Linked DNA regions of Homo sapiens: region 2 is linked to region 1. Evidence: fine-mapped expression QTL. A gene starts in region 1. The other region holds a variant in brackets. All regions are shown on one strand. Distances are from middle to middle.

The links. PIP is the estimated chance that this variant, and not a neighbour inherited with it, causes the effect.
Region 2: its variant is fine-mapped to the expression of GDPGP1 in pancreas (GTEx, PIP 0.99).

Annotation. Positions count from the first base shown.
Region 1 is chr15:90,232,539-90,235,446 of GRCh38, reverse strand. It overlaps GDPGP1 (GDP-D-glucose phosphorylase 1), which reads right to left and starts at 1,238. Exons shown (of 4, transcript NM_001013657.3): 1 at 1,155-1,238; 2 at 851-925. It overlaps CIB1 (calcium and integrin binding 1), which reads left to right and starts at 1,506. Exons shown (of 7, transcript NM_006384.4): 1 at 1,506-1,612; 2 at 1,744-1,778. The coding sequence starts at 1,562. RefSeq lists silencers at 1,104-1,543, 1,564-2,013.
Region 2 is chr15:91,073,232-91,076,139 of GRCh38, reverse strand. No RefSeq gene overlaps it. Among named protein-coding and RNA genes, the nearest start is that of SV2B, 26 kb to the left of the region's middle. The variant G/A (reference allele first, on the strand shown) is at 1,570.

The DNA of each region.
Region 1 (2,908 bases):
CAGCTCCCAGGTTTAACCATGTCTGGCTAATTTTTGTATTTTTAGTAGAGATGGGGTTTTGCCATGTTGGCCATGCTGGTCTTGAACTCCTGGCCTCAAATGATCCGCCTGCTTCAGCCTCCCAAAGTGCTGAGATTACAGGCATGAGCCACCGCGCCTGGCCTTGAATATTTCTACAATGATGGAATGTACCTGTTAATACAGTGTGTCTTATCAAACACATGCTGCCAAGGAGAGCACTGGGTATTCTTCCAGTGTAAAGTAGATTCCTAGGCAGTCTAGGGAGTCAGGAAAGGCTTCCCTGAGGATGAGATGGAAGAGGGACTGAGGGCCCAAAGTGGCTGAAAGACAGAGAGCCAATAGGAGGAAGTCCAGTTACAGAGGGCCAGGATTTGGGTTTTTAACCATTTAATGGTTATAAACTGAGACTAACATACTCAGATTTAGACTTTACAAAGATCAGCAAGTATAATGGATTGGAAGGATCAAGAATTAATCCCAGCCTGACCAACACAACCTCCACTTCCTCCTCCCAGCAGTTTGGAATCCTTACCTTTTGCAATAGTATACGTTCATTCATTTATTATGCATTCGATAATATTTACTGAGAGCCTACTATGTGCCAAACATTATCCTAGAGGTTAAGAGGGGACAAGAGCAAAGGGTCAGCAGTCTAGGGGTGAGATGGAGTCAAAAGGACGGCAGGTCAGCTGGAATGATGAGAACAGCAGTGGAGAGCCTTTAAAAGTGCCTTGGACTGGACCGATTACCTTCTAAATGCCGGCGCCCGGAAAAATCACTAACACCCTTTGGACTTACGTATTTCCATCTTTGTAAAATGGGAACCTACCTCGCAAGGGATGTTGCAACAATCGAAGAAAACTATGCACAATGCTTGACATCCAGTGGGTCCTCAGTAAATAGCCTAAGAAGGAAGCAAGGTTATGGTTACTTCTGGAAGAGGTGGCTTGGGGGCTGCGACAGGTGCAGCGATTGCCTGATGATAACATCTAGAAAAGCCCTTGCTGGGCAGAGGGGCAGCCGACGACCCCCGCCACTCAGCGAGTCTCCAGGTTTCCCGGAAACGCTAGCTCCAGTGACTTCTCAGATGCCCCTATGGGACCCCACCCAGGGCTGCCGCCGCCACCACCTACTGCAGCCGAAGCGGATGCACCTCGCGACTTTCCCCGCAGCCGCTGCCGGGGCCACAGCGAGGTCATGACGCCCGTGACGCATACGCAGCCAGCACGCACGCGCGCGGCGTGGCCCGCCCCCCCCTCCCACCCCGGAGGCGGGGCCGTGAGTCCCGGGCTCCGCCCCGGAGCGTCGGGCCCCTCCCCGGGCCCCGCCTCCAGCTCGCCTAGGACCGCTTGGAGCCGGCAGCTCGCCTGCCAAACCCGGCTGGGAACGCCTGGCAGCTTTTAGGAGGGGGCGGGCCCGGGGGTGGTGGCCCCAGGAGCGGTTGCCGCGGGGACCGGGCAGTGACGCGGCCCAAGGGCGGAAGTGAGAAAGTTGTCTGCGTCTCGAGGCGAGTTGGCGGAGCTGTGCGCGCGGCGGGGCGATGGGGGGCTCGGGCAGTCGCCTGTCCAAGGAGCTGCTGGCCGAGTACCAGGTGCGCGGGACGCCTGGCCCTGGGGAGCTCGCGTGCGGGCCTCTTCTCGGGAGCAGGGTCCGGGAGCTGGCTGCGGGGCGGCCGCGGCCTCCCAGCGGTCCGCTAATCCCCGCTCTGGCTTTGCCTTCCAGGACTTGACGTTCCTGACGAAGCAGGAGATCCTCCTGTAAGTGCTGCCTTGAACCCTGCCTCCGACCCCGGGATCCTCTAGAGACAGCTTCGGGGGCGCTGTCCCGAGGGAGGGGCGGGGGCTGGCCTGAGGTCTGCAGAGGAGCGGGAGCTGGAGGCCGGGAGACCTAGCCCGGGCTGCGCCCTCCTCCCGGCACGCCCTCCCCGCCCTCGCCTGAGGCCCCAGCGTGGCACCGCGGAGCCACCTTACAGCCTCCAGGAAAAGTTAGGCGCTCTTTGACCCTGGGCTCCACTAGCTTCAGCACTGCCGAACTTCCTGCCCCAGTCCGGCAGGGGCCGACCTTGCCCAGTGGCTAAACCACAGAAGCCTTGGGGAGCCCGGCTCCTTCTCCCAACTTTACCTGAATAATACAGTAACCGTTATCGCTTTCTGAGCACTCACCATGTGCCAGGGACTGTGCTAAATGGTTGCCTGCGTTACCTAATTTAATCTTTAGGAGAGAGGTACTGGACAATGAAACAGGTTCAGAAAGGTTTGGTAACTGCTTAAGACAACACTCTGAGTAAGTAGATTTGAACTTGGGCTGGAAGCCCTTTTGCCGGATTTATGCAGGCCAGGTTCCTGTGGCAAAGATAAGCTCATGGGAAGGAGGTGGAGGCCGAGGAGGACAGTTCAGTGTGGTTGCTAAAAAGGAGGCTTTGAGGGTAAGAGATCCCTGGAGTGAAGGTGAGAATGAGATTTTTGGTTTTGCTCTTTTCTCCGTTTTTTTTTTTTTGAGACAGCGTCTCGCTCTGTCGCCCAGGCTGGAGTGCTGGGGCACGATCTTGGCTCACTGCAGGCTCTGCCTCCGGGTTCAAGTGATTCTCCTGCCTCCGGGTTCAAGTGATTCTCCTGCCTCAGCCTCCTGAGTAGCTGGGATTATAGGCACCCGCCACCATGCCCGGCTAATTTTTGTATTTTTAGTAGAGAAGGGGTTCACCATGTTGCTCAGACTGGTCTCAGACGCCTGACCTCCAAAGCTCCGCCCGCCTTGGCCTCCCAAAGTGCTGGGATTACAGGTGTGAGCCACCGTGCCTGGCCAATTCTTTAGGGCCAACTTCTGGCTCCTTTCCCAACTTCTTCATCCCTTGGGGATCTCTAGAATCAGTGCCAAGCACATAGTAAAT
Region 2 (2,908 bases), 840 kb before region 1:
ATTAATATTTCATGGTTTTTCTGTTCATGTGTGAGGACAACTCAGACTGGACTTCCTGTCTGAGGCAGAAGAGGAAGGACAAAGGCTCCTGGGAACTGCAGTCTCCTCTGAAATGCTGAGCTCAAAGCAGGACCTCATTTCATATATGCAAGTCATCATAGACTCTGAGATATGGGTTAGATACCAAGATGTGTATTTAGCCAGGAAGCATGTTTCCATGGCAATTTTATATTCCTATGTTTGCCTTTCTTTCTCCAACCAGTGTGTTAATTCGATTCAGAGCCTCTGCAGGCCTTGCCCATCTGCAAAGCAGGTGGGGCCTCAGCTGCTTCAACAGCTGCCAATAATCCTAGAAAATTAAGCCAAAACCCAGACAATCATGATCACCATGGTTATCTTGTGATCGCCTGCCATATTTTAAGCATTTTTTTTTTAATTCAGAGACAGTCACAAAGATTTAGGACAATGAAGGTCATTGTTGCATTATTAGTAGCAGCAAAATACTAGAAATCATTTTAAAGTCCAACAAGAGGGGATTTTTAAAGTAAATCATGGTACCTTTCACGTGATGGGATATTCTGAAACCATTAAAATCACTCTGGGAGACTATTTCATCATGAGGGTAAAGTACATGATAGAATATAAAGTGGAAAAACAGGGTCTCCAAATAGGCCATACAGTATGATCCCAATTTGGAATGTCTAAAAGGTGAGGTGTGTGCTCCAGAGAGCTGATTTCACACAGTTCCACCAAAGTACCAAAGCTGGCTCTTTCCTTGTGACCTCACCACTGCCCATCCAGGTAGTGTATGGGCTCACAAGTGTACTTGACCTTTCAAGAGAGGCACTGGCCACACAAAGTAATTTGCAGCAGCATCTCAGGGAACGGAGGGCCAACACTTGTGTCAGTTGGTCCATGTGCCAGAGACTCACTGGCTGGCCTCCATGGGCACTCCTAGCACAGTGGCAGGGAGGGAACTGCAGACTTAGTTCCCCAGCACCAGTAATACAAACGCTTACCTACACTGGGCAAGCGGGCAATGGGGCCTGTGGCAGCTCCCCTGGGGCTCTCATTGCCAGCAACAGATGGTGCTCACTCAGTCAGAGGCAACTCAGTACTGGTCCCCTCAGGTGGGTCTACATAGTTCCCCTTAAACCCACCAATTTCTTTCTCTAGGCAAGTGTTCTGTGCCTTCCATTCCCCCCACATGACTTTCCCCATAAGGAGATTCTTCATCTCCCCTAGGAGATGGGGACCTGGCTCCACTTTCCTTCTTGTTTTGTTTTGGTTTCGTTTGGTTTCTTGTTTTTGTTTTGTTGTTGTTGTTGTTGTCGTTGTTGTTTTTGAGACAGAGCCTTGCTCTTGTTGCCCAGGCTGTAGTGCAGTGGCGTGATCTCAGCTCTCTGCAATGTCCACCTCCAAGGTTCAAGTGATTCTCACACCTCAGCCTCATGAGTAGCTGGGACTACAGGCACGCGCCACCACACTCGGCTAAGTTTTTTTGTATTTTTAGTAGAGACAGAGTTTCACCATGTTGGTCAGGCTGGTCTCAAACTCCTGACCTCAAGC[G/A]ATCCACCCACCTCGGCCTCCCAAAGTGCTGGGATTACAGGCGTAAGCCACCGCGCCTGGCCTTCCCTTCTTGTTTACCTCATTCAATTTTATGCACTTAATTATTCAGGACATGGACTTTCAGAATATTCACATCCCAGAGCTTGACTTTCAACGCTTTTAATTCTGATATAAGCACCAAAAGGCAATGTTGAACCTTTAAGAAGTGATGGGGTGGGCCTACGGGTGGGACTGTTAGAAATGCCACAGGACAGAGCACAAGGGAATGAGGTAGGGGGCGAGGACCTAGGATAGGATCTCAAAGTTGTATCCTACCACATAAATATTTGCATAGAATTAAGTATTGAAGAGACATACACCCTTAATAATCATTACAATTATCTCCATATAGAGGGATGAGGGATGACTTTTATCTTCTGCTATATTTTTTCAAATTTTCTGCTATGAACATATATTACAATAGAAATGTATTTTATGCCAGGATTCATTTCCAATGACAGTTTGTAATGTGAAAAATTATGTATAGTCAATGTCAAATTCATTTAATTGTCTACTATATATGGTACTCAGACACATATTTAATCAACCCAACCAGTAATTCCTGTTGCACTGGAACAGATAGCTGTTTCTTTAGCTAAGCACTAGATGAGGTAGTCAGCTTGCATTTAAAGTTCATGCTGTATGAAAAATAAGCATCTTTAAACCCTGGAATCACATACATTTAGCTGACTTTGCTTACGTTGAGTACATTTATAATGCAATTGCCCTGTACCCATAAAATCAGAAAAAGAAGCTATATTAAAAATGCATTACACAAAAAAAAACTATTGAAGGAAATAACTTCAATACCCAACAACAAAAAAGACCCTGGGTCTTTCAGAGTGGCTCATGCCTATAATCCTGCACTTTGGGAGGCCAAGGCGGGAGGACCACTTGAGTCCAGGAGTTCGAGGCTGCAGTAAGCCCTGATCATGATCATGACACTACTCTCCACCTTGGATGACAGAGCAAAACCTGTCAAAAAAAACCAAAAACAAAACAAAAAAACACAACAACAGAAAAAAAACCTGATTACTCAAGAAGCTATGTAATCCTTTTTAATTCCCAAAAAATAATGCCCTGCTATTTGCCAACTATGACACTTACTAGATATAAATCAAATAAATCATTCTCCTGATCTGCAGGGCATAACTGGACAGAGTAAATACTCAATGAATACTATTCACAGTTAGTCTGGATGTACAGGGACTTACTGGAACTGGCCAGCCTGGCTAGGATGGAACTAGTCAGATAACCATGCAGAGCATATGTAAATATCAGATCACAGAATTTCAGCGAT